3 linked regions of the Homo sapiens genome follow. The protein of the gene in region 1 purifies or fractionates together with the protein of each later gene. This does not show direct contact. Each region holds a gene or a part of one and is shown in the gene's direction. Other genes may lie near its edges.

Region 1 (3,656 bases):
AATCTGTTTTTCTGTTTTCAGTTTCCTACTTTGCACTGCCACATTCAGAAGTATCTCTAATGCTTCCACCTCCTGAGTCTTTTCTCGTGTCTTAGTCTGTTTGGCTACTATAATAAAATACTGTGGAGTAGGTAATTTATAAATAATAGAAATTTATTTGTCCTAGTTCTGGAGACTCGGAAGTCCAATATCAAGCTGCTGACAGATTTGGTGTCTGGTGAGGGCTCTTCCTCTGCTCTGTACATGGTGCTTCGGTGCTACGTCCTCACATGGTATGAGGCAGAAGGGTCAAACAGGCTCCCTGGAGCCCTTTTATAAGAGCCTCATCCCATTCTTAGAGCAGAGCCCTCATCCGATTTACCTGATCACCTCCTGGACATCTTATACTGTTGCATTGGGGATTCAGTTTCAACATGGATTTTGGAGGGGGATGCAGGCATTCAAACCATAGCATCTGGGTTCTGCGGTAGGAATTACCTGCCTCTTGTGGCCTTCTTCCTGTAGTTACTTAGCTTTTAGCTTTCTCTTTTTGCTGAATCACTCACTACCTTTGTCTGCTTTCCAGCACCACCCCCCTACCGCCGCCCATTATTTTGGGCATTTCTCTTTTGCTCTTGTTCTCCAGTCTTGTTCATGTTGCTCTGGCAAGTTGTGCCCTCTTCATTTAGTGAGAATTGAGGAGGGAGGGCAGATAAATGTTTTGAGTACAATCTTCCTTGTCTAACTGGAGGTACCCCCTGCAAATACAGTGGGCTGTCTTCTTAAATTAAAAAAAAAATCCACACAAGAAGCACAGTTCTTTTTAGAAATTAAAGCTGACTTCACACCACCACTGTGCTAAAACCTCAGCCCTCCCTGAGGCTGTCTTTGGCCTCAGTTATTTTGTTTTATTCTTTATTTTTGCTTAGTTTATATTAACAAATCATAAATAATTGCCAAAAAGGTTTAGAACAGTTGTAGTATAATTTAAATGCTTAAACTTATCAAACTAAAACTTCTAACATAATTGTAATGATATTGTTCCTGTATATATAATCCCATCTGGAGTTACTGCCTTAATATAAATTTGAGGGTTTTCAGGGGCATGAGCCCCTGCCCCCATCCCTCTCTGCTGGAACTTCTCAAGCCAAGGTCACTGATGAACTCATCATCCCCTAAATCCAATGGGCATTTTTATATTCTTACAGGACTTTAACTCTGCTGCACTGGAAATGGAATTTTTGGAAGTTTTCTCTCCTGTTAGTCTCTGGGCCACACAGTTCCCTGACACTTCTTCCTAATTTTGACTGCCTTTTCTCTGCTGGTGCTTCATCTTCCACTGTGCTTAAATAACAGGGTTTCTTAAGGTTTCCTTCTGAACCCTCTTCTCCTGCATGTACCCCATGAGCAGTGCATCTGCATAGACTGTGTGCTACTTTGTTCGTCTTCTTTTTCCCCATAAGAGAGCAAAGGAGCTTAGAAAAGGAGCCACAGTGATAGGCTCTCTGAGTGGCATGGGCCAGTGTAGCCTCCCATCTCAGACCCCTGGCAGGTGGGTGGGCAGCTTGAATAGCTCAGGGAAGGAAATCCATTTCTCACAAGAAAACCCATTTTGCTTTTGAGCAATTCCAAAAGTCAAAAAGTTCTATGATCTCCGCCATTGTCTCTCTTTAAGTCTCTGGACATATTTAGAACAAATATAATTATACTTCCACTTTCAAATACTGCAGTCATAACATGCAGTTGCCATTTTTCTTTTCAGACATTCTTAGTTCTTTCAGCTGTTGCTCACATGACAGCCTTTCATCCTTCAATACTTACTTATTGATAATTTACTATGGGAATTATAGACTCACTTGTCTTTTAGACCCAGGCAGATATAATACTATACATGAGAGCAACCAGGAGAGCAAGAGATTGTAAATAGCTACTGATCCTCTGCTTCATCTGCAGTGTCAATAGACAAGACAGTAGGGGCTGGTGGGGACTGCAGGAACTGGCAAGCTGCAGAGAGCAGGCCTACTTTGCCAGATGTTTAATGTGTCAGGAGAAACTGGAGATGTGCACCTGTGAACTAAACATACGTGTTCATTGGTTTCCTCTGGCCTGCAGGGTGAGGTTGGCAATCTTTGTTTCATCTTTTGCAAACAGTTACATGCTTTGGATAAGGTAAGTATAAATCAGATCCAAAGCCTGCCCTCAAGGAGGATACAATGGTAGGTCATGGAATATATTATAGCTATACAGGGAGAGATTATTTTTGGTGGAAATTCTTAGGGAAGGATTTGTGGAGGAAAGAGCATTTGAAATAATCCTTGATGGATGAATAGCATTTGGATATGGGGAGCCTGAGGTGTGTGGGAAGAAGGGACAGCTTGCACAAAGGATAAGATATGGAAAGTTCTAGAGGTTGTATGAGGAAAGGCCAATCCTTCAGTATGTCTGGAAGAGATTTGTTCATGATAAAGGGGGTTAACAGGAAATAGAATAGAGAGGGTATTATGGAGCAAATTCATGAGGGACTCTGCACAGAGGCTAAAGAGTAGAACCTTTCTTTTTTTTTTTTGTAGGATAAAGTCATAATTAGAACATTGCTTTAAGAAAATCAAGCTGGCAGCACTGAATGAGATGGGATCTGGGAGAGAGTGTGAGCCAGTTTGAAGGTTAGTACAAAAGACTCAACCAAAACCACAGGCATTGCAGTGTCAGTGGAAAAGGAGGGGAAGACACAGGAGTGATCTCTGCGATGCAATCTACAGAATGTCATGGGTCAGTTATGTGGAGCAGGGATGTGGAGGAGATCAGTGGAGAGAGATGGCTTGGATGGAGCCCCCGGTTTCAGATCCTGTCACTATTCTACCTCTGCTCTGGGCAAATTTCAAGGTAGCAGAGTCCCTCCCTCCTAACATGGAGTTGAAGCAAGCATCACATTCCAGGGTGATCTGACCAGACTATTGGTCCTATTATCTCCTAGAGCATGGAGAATTTTATTAAGGCTGCCACATGTATCATTTAGCTTCTCAGCAGGACAAGTGGGTCACTGTCTCTCAGGAATCTTGACATTTAAGGTACACAGGCAAATTAAAATTAAACATCTTTGCAGTGGTATAAAGAGGATTGTAAGCATAAAAAATAATTACAGATTTCTAGCCTGAGTGGCTTGATACTTAAGTAGTGAGAAAATGTGTGAGACTGCCCACACTTGTGCAGTAGTGTCACTCCAGCTGACTACAAGCAATGTCTTAAGGGTAATGACATTTTTAATCAACCATCATTATGGGAGAAATTGCCAATCAAGATAGGTCATTTGTGCCCTTCACTGTTTCTTATTATAGAAACTTTAATTAGGATATTTTATTTCTGGGTCTCTTGTAATTCTCAATACTAATTTTAGGATAGATGATGATGATTATTAATCCTACTTTTCCCCCCCAAACATGGCAACTTTTTAACAGTGTTTCTTGGCAACCTTGCTGATTTAAAGATGAAATTGTCAAAAATATCTTAAAAATTATTTTCACTGAAGAAGAGGCTCTATCTTTTTTATTTATATGAAATGTCAGGGCTGAACTTCTTTTTCCTTCTTTCTTTTCTCTCTCTCTGTCTCTCTTCTTTCTTTTTTTTTTCAGGCTCTCATTCTGTTGGCCACGCTGGAGTACAGTCATAGCTCACTGCAG
Region 2 (3,656 bases), on another chromosome or scaffold:
AATGTTTTCTGTAGCACTTTATTTTCCATTTCTAGCTTTTGAGTACATGCTTTTATTCTCTTAACCTCTTGTGCACTAAAATGGTGTTTATGGATATAAACATATTTTAAATTTATCTAGATATATAATGTTACTTTGTTTCTTTAATTAAACATATATTTTATGTTTTTTGGTTATTATTTTGTTTGATTGATAGAGTGTTTCTCAGAGAAAATTAAGTGTAGAAACCAGTTGCTGGTGAAATTTTCTAAATTAATGGTAGAATTAAAATTACTGGGTTTATCTGCATGAACACGTATAGTCAAACACAGATATAATCAAGGTCTCAGATGCATTTTAGAACTGAATGTGGTCTTGCAAATAAATAGAGTTCTAGAAGCTTAAAGTAAAACAAAAATTCTTAGTTCAATCTTTTACAAAGCTTAGCTGTTAACCTACCATCATTAACTCAAAATGAAATGCCTTAAATGAGCAACATTGATATGAATTACTCATTGGGCTAACATTCTTTCCTTCCACTAATTAAGGTTTTCATGAAGTTCGAGGTATTTTTCATGCATACAGAGCAGCTGTATACATGAGAGAGAAAAAATGTGAGAGAGAAAAAATGGATTAAAATAAAATATTTTTAAATACCAGTCATTCACTGAATACATGTTTATTAAGTGCCTATTTTTTAGCAAACACTGTGATTTTCTGGATAAATACCATTAACCTGTCCAGGGAGAGTTCATTTTTAGGACAGACATACAGAGCCTGGTCTGTAGGTGTCCCATGTGTCTATCTATATTTCATTTTAAAGGAGTATTTTGTGTTGTGACCATCAGCATTTTATCAAGTAAAACATGCTTTTGTGAGAGAAGGATTATTTTAGTGTATATGTTATAAGGGTTGCCATTCTTTTGAATTTGAAACTTGCAAAGAAACTCTAGAGAGCAGCCTGGGGGAAAATGTGTGTTTACGAATGACCTCTGTTCTCAACAATTATTCAGCTGGGGCTTACCTTTGTTTATATGATTTTTTTGTGCTTTTTCTTTGGTTGCAAAGATTGTGGATAACTCTTCTCTTCCACTATCAGAAAAGTTTCCCGTTCTGTGGGGAGGGGTGTGCTGCTTTGATAAATTGTTGTTCAAGGGCGTAGTCACTAAAGTGAATGATTGTTCAAGGAAGTGCGCTGCCTGAAAAAAGAATGAGGTCATAGGATAAAGGGGTTGCATTTTCAGCTTTGGTCTCCTCTTTTGTGCTTACAATTAAATGAAGCTATAGAAATTGGAGAGTGCAACTAATTGCTGAGTGAAAATGCCCATGGCAATTGTATCTTGTTTAACGGAGGTCTGATAAATTGCTGGGCCTGTTTTCAGTCAAAGGCACTCATAAGCTGTCACGGTGTGTGTGTGGCAAGATATGAGGGTGGCAAGTGGAAGAGAGGGAAACTGTCCTTTCAAGTTTATTTTCTTGACAATTCATGACAAAACAATTGGGAAATTTGCCATGCTCTTAAGCCCTATTTAAAAGTTAAAACTTTTATTAATAAATATATTTCAGCCAACTTTTTCTTCAGACCAGGGGCTATCCCAGTAGAGGTCATTTTTTGATTTTCAATAAAGTATATATACTCATAATTTTTAAAGACAGAAAGCATGCACTGCAAAAAAGACTGTGTATTTTATTTTCTCTCTGTCTCCTAGTTTTCTTCAGAAAAAGAAGAGAAAGAACCCAATATGGACCTCTTAAATGAGGGATTTGGGTTGGAGAGAAGGAGGAACAGGAAGTAGTTCTATTATACATTCGGTTGCTTTCTTTGTATGACAACAGAAACACAGATTTTATCCTAAATCAAAGAAGTGTTTATTTCATCTAAAGAGAGATTATTATAAATAACATGTTTCTTGCTATATAAGTTGAGTATAACATCTCAACAATAACCTCAGACAGGTGTTTAACTATGTTACATGGCTTTGAAAGATCCTAACAAAAACATCTCCCATACTATTCAGGGAATTTATTCAAATGGAGGTTTGCCTTGGCAAATTCTGTCAGCATAAATGTCAGGTGGTTTTTAAAGATATTGCTTCTTTTGAAACTGTTCAGCCTAGAGTATTTGTAACTCACCATTATTACCTTCAGTGATTCTCATAGTCATTGGGAGTAACAGGAGCATACACAAACCTTCCATGGTTTTCCTTCATGGAATATTATACTGTATATTAGTCTTTATGTAAAGTTTTAAAATTCAAATTAGACAACATAAAGAGTTATACTTTCATGTTAGCAAGTTTCCAAATATTTAGAAACAAAGCCTGCACTACGTATGTAATATTCTCTATGATTTAATTCTCATTACCTTCAGTCTTTCTTGTATGTCTTACACCAGGCTTTTGAGCTCTTTGACCACAGCTATCAACAGGAAAATGAAGCCAACAGGTCTTGACTGAAGAGGTTCAGATTTTGCAGTCTAAAGACCAATTGCAGAGAAAATTGTATGAAGAAAATGCCCAAAAAGGTCTATGTGGAATGTCTCAGGAAGAGCTGTAAATAAATATGCAATCATGAGGTGAACTTTGGCAGAATAGAACTATGAAGCAGTCTAGTTGGAGTCCCTAGGAATATTAATTTTAAAATCTCCACAACTTTAATTACACCTAAGAATATGTTCTCTAGAAAAGTTGCTTAAATTCCCTATACACATCCCATATCACTCCTCTGCTGCAAAAACCTTCAATGACACTAAGTATCTATAAATTGCTTAGTCTGACTTTCAAGGCCCTCCATGTTAGGGCTCCTGTGGAACTTCCTGGAACTCTCCTTCTGGTGTCCTATGTTTTAGCTAAGTGTAAATGATTGTTCTCTAAATAAAGTCCCCAATTTTCCACAGCTATGTCTTTCACTCCATTGCTCTTACATCTGAACTGCTCCTGCTCCTCACCCTCACCAATCTAGACACCCTGAAATTATACAAATTTTTCAAGCCTTTCCTCAAGTGTAACCTTCTGATCCTCTGATTGTCCCAGGTTGAAGTTATCTCTTAGCCCTCAAAACTTACCTAGTGAGCTTCTTATAGGTCTTATGATAGTCTACTTAATTCCTATTTGTACTCATAGTGTTTATGCCCTACATGATTATAACCATGAGAGGGTAGAGATTATATTCTAACATCATTTGTATCTCTTTCAATGCCACTACACAATAAGTAGTAAAGAAACTGCAAGTTAGTAACTTAGTCACATATATAATCAATCCAGTGAAAATAATATTTCATATTAATACATGGGTTTTTTGTTTTTCACAACTCTTCCATGTATATGATTATCTAGTAAACAACTTGATAGAACCTCAACAATTAGATAAAACATGCATTATTATGTTTATTGTACAAATTGTACGATGTACAAATAAAGACAATATTCATTGTGTATTATTTATCTGTTAAACAAATAAGGAAATTGAGACTCGAATAGCTCAAAATAACTTGCCTATTTAGTACAGCTGGTTAGTGAATGCCCTGAGTTTAAAAACCAGCTCCTGATATTTTCATTACATCAGCTATCTCCCTTAATTAACTTTCGATATTCATGATTTCAGTTTAAATTAGTTCACATTTTTTATTTCAACAAAACATTTGATGATTACCCTTACTGTATATTTTCCCATTCTAA
Region 3 (3,756 bases), on another chromosome or scaffold:
GAGAAAAATAAAGCCTTTTTTTCCAATCCTGTCCTCCACCTCTGCATCCCATTCTTCTTCACAGAGGCAACTGATTCAAGTCATTACATAGTTATTGAGTGTTAACTACAACTATGTTAAGTACAGCTATATATGTTAGATGCCGTAGCCACAGAAATCAGTTTACAATCTAATGCAGTGGATACAGCATGTATACATATAATATAAGGTTGCTACAAATGCTATCTGAGGTAGAGCTGTTTGAAAGAATACTAATACTTAAATGTTTAATTCAACTGACTTGATTGACAACTGATTAGCTGAGTGGAAAAGATGGATGAGAAAGATTGTGAGACTTAATTGGCTGGTGGTATGGTGATATGATTGACAATAACTGCTAAGTCAGAGAGGGATATATTAAGGAGGAGAAGAAAAGCAACAAATCTGGTTTTGATGTGTTCACTTTGTTATAATTATTGATTATTTACTGAATATGAATATTTATCTTTGTTTTTGAGTCAATAAATATACCTTTGTAAAGACAGAATTAAAGTATTAGTATTTCTTTCAAACTGGAGGCATTTCTCCCACTAACATATTTCATCAAAACTTATAATAAGCTTGGTTCCAGAGGAAGAAATGAGGGATAACCAAAAATAGAGACATTAATAATAGTGTAACGCCCAGTGATAAATCTCAATAGGCAGTGATGACAGACATGTTTTCCCAAACACAAGGATGCTGTAAGGGCCAAACAGAAATGATGGCCCCTCCCCAGCACCTCATTTTGCCCCTTCCTTCAGCTATGCCTCTACTCTCCTTAGATACAAGGGAGGTGGATTTTTCTCTTCTCTGAGATAGCTTGATGGAACCACAGGAACAATGAAGTGGGCTCCTGGCTCTTTTCTCTGTGGCAGATGGGGTGCCATGCCCACCTTCAGACAAAGGGAAGATTGAGCTCAAAAGCTCCCTGAGAAGTGAGAGCCTATGAACATGGTTGACACAGAGGGACAGGAATGTATTTCCAGGGTCATTCATTCCTGGGAATAGTGAACTGGGACATGGGGGAAGTCAGTCTCCTCCTGCCACAGCCACAGATTAAAAATAATAATGTTAACTGATCCCTAGGCTAAAATAATAGTGTTAACTGATCCCTAAGCTAAGAAAGTTCTTTTGGTAATTCAGGTGATGGCAGCAGGACCCATCTTAAGGATAGACTAGGTTTGCTTAGTTCGAGGTCATATCTGTTTGCTCTCAGCCATGTACTGGAAGAAGTTGCATCACACAGCCTCCAGGACTGCCCTCCTCCTCACAGCAATGGATAATGCTTCACTAGCCTTTGCAGATAATTTTGGATCAGAGAAAAAACCTTGAGCTGGGCCAAAAAGGAGGAGCTTCAACCTGTGTGCAAAATCTGGGAACCTGACAGTATAGGTTGGGGGCCAGGATGAGGAAAAAGGAACGGGAAAGACCTGCCCACCCTTCTGGTAAGGAGGCCCCGTGATCAGCTCCAGCCATTTGCAGTCCTGGCTATCCCAGGAGCTTACATAAAGGGACAATTGGAGCCTGAGAGGTGACAGTGCTGACACTACAAGGCTCGGAGCTCCGGGCACTCAGACATCATGAGTTGGTCCTTGCACCCCCGGAATTTAATTCTCTACTTCTATGCTCTTTTATTTCTCTCTTCAACATGTGTAGCAGTAAGTGTGCTCTTCACAAAACGTTGTTTAAAATGGAAAGCTGGAAAATAAAACAGATAATAAACTAGTGAAATTTCTGTATTTTTTCTCTTTTAGTATGTTGCTACCAGAGACAACTGCTGCATCTTAGATGAAAGATTCGTAAGTAGTTTTTATGTTTCTCCCTTTGTGTGTGAACTGGAGAGGGGCAGAGGAATAGAAATAATTCCCTCATAAATATCATCTGGCACTTGTAACTTTTTAAAAACATAGTCTAGGTTTTACCTATTTTTCTTAATAGATTTTAAGAGTAGCATCTGTCTACATTTTTAATCACTGTTATATTTTCAGGGTAGTTATTGTCCAACTACCTGTGGCATTGCAGATTTCCTGTCTACTTATCAAACCAAAGTAGACAAGGATCTACAGTCTTTGGAAGACATCTTACATCAAGTTGAAAACAAAACATCAGAAGTCAAACAGCTGATAAAAGCAATCCAACTCACTTATAATCCTGATGAATCATCAAAACCAAGTGAGAAAATAAAGACTACTGACCAAAAAATAATAATAATAATCTGTGAAGTTCTTTTGCTGTTGTTTTAGTTGTTCTATTTGCTTAAGGATTTTTATGTCTCTGATCCTATATTACAGATATGATAGACGCTGCTACTTTGAAGTCCAGGAAAATGTTAGAAGAAATTATGAAATATGAAGCATCGATTTTAACACATGACTCAAGTATTCGGTAAGGATTTTTGTTTTAATTTGCTCTGCAAGACTGATTTAGTTTTTATTTAATATTCTATACTTGAGTGAAAGTAATTTTTAATGTGTTTTCCCCATTTATAATATCCCAGTGACATTATGCCTGATTATGTTGAGCATAGTAGAGATAGAAGTTTTTAGTGCAATATAAATTATACTGGGTTATAATTGCTTATTAATAATCACATTGAAGAAAGATGTTCTAGATGTCTTCAAATGCTAGTTTGACCATATTTATCAAAAATTTTTTCCCCATCCCCCATTTATCTTACAACATAAAATCAATCTCATAGGAATTTGGGTGTTGAAAATAAAATCCTCTTTATAAAAATGCTGACAAATTGGTGGTTAAAAAAATTAGCAAGCAGAGGCATAGTAAGGATTTTGGCTCCTAAAGTAAATTATATTGAATGTGGAGCAGGAAGAAACATGTCTTGAGAGACTAAGTGTGGCAAATATTGCAAAGCTCATATTGATCATTGCAGAATGAACCTGCATAGTCTCTTCCCTTCATTTGGAAGTGAATGTCTCTGTTAAAGCTTCTCAGGGACTCATAAACTTTCTGAACATAAGGTCTCAGATACAGTTTTAATATTTTTCCCCAATTTTTTTTTCTGAATTTTTCTCAAAGCAGCTTGAGAAATTGAGATAAATAGTAGCTAGGGAGAAGTGGCCCAGGAAAGATTTCTCCTCTTTTTGCTATCAGAGGGCCCTTGTTATTATTGTTATTATTATTACTTGCATTATTATTGTCCATCATTGAAGTTGAAGGAGGTTATTGTACAGAAATTGCCTAAGACAAGGTAGAGGGAAAACGTGGACAAATAGTTTGTCTACCCTTTTTTACTTCAAAGAAAGAACGGTTTATGCATTGTAGACAGTTTTCTATCATTTTTGGATATTTGCAAGCCACCCTGTAAGTAACTACAAAAGGAGGGTTTTTACTTCCCCCAGTCCATTCCCAAAGCTATGTAACCAGAAGCATTAAAGAAGAAAGGGGAAGTATCTGTTGTTTTATTTTACATACAATAACGTTCCAGATCATGTCCCTGTGTAAGTTATATTTTAGATTGAAGCTTATATGTATAGCCTCAGTAGATCCACAAGTGAAAGGTATACTCCTTCAGCACATGTGAATTACTGAACTGAGCTTTTCCTGCTTCTAAAGCATCAGGGGGTGTTCCTATTAACCAGTCCCGCCACTCTTGCAGGTTGCTATCTGCTGTCCCTTATGCATAAAGTAAAAAGCAAAATGTCAATGACATTTGCTTATTGACAAGGACTTTGTTATTTGTGTTGGGAGTTGAGACAATATGCCCCATTCTAAGTA

The links.
Region 2: the proteins of CA8 (region 1) and POF1B purify together in Homo sapiens (affinity purification with mass spectrometry; 3 studies listed by BioGRID and IntAct, with this or other methods). This does not show direct contact.
Region 3: the proteins of CA8 (region 1) and FGG purify together in Homo sapiens (affinity purification with mass spectrometry; 3 studies listed by BioGRID and IntAct, with this or other methods). This does not show direct contact.

What each region holds. Positions count from the first base shown.
Region 1 is NC_000008.11:60,271,279-60,274,934, reverse strand, and holds part of CA8 (carbonic anhydrase-related protein), read left to right. Parts: intron 1-3,656. UniProt on the Homo sapiens protein: Does not have a carbonic anhydrase catalytic activity.
Region 2 is NC_000023.11:85,373,113-85,376,768, reverse strand, and holds part of POF1B (protein POF1B), read left to right. Parts: intron 1-3,656. UniProt on the Homo sapiens protein: Plays a key role in the organization of epithelial monolayers by regulating the actin cytoskeleton. May be involved in ovary development.
Region 3 is NC_000004.12:154,610,455-154,614,210, reverse strand, and holds the start of FGG (fibrinogen gamma chain isoform gamma-B precursor), read left to right. Parts: upstream 1-1,554; 5' UTR 1,555-1,601; coding exon 1,602-1,679; intron 1,680-1,775; coding exon 1,776-1,820; intron 1,821-2,009; coding exon 2,010-2,193; intron 2,194-2,312; coding exon 2,313-2,406; intron 2,407-3,756. UniProt on the Homo sapiens protein: Together with fibrinogen alpha (FGA) and fibrinogen beta (FGB), polymerizes to form an insoluble fibrin matrix. Has a major function in hemostasis as one of the primary components of blood clots.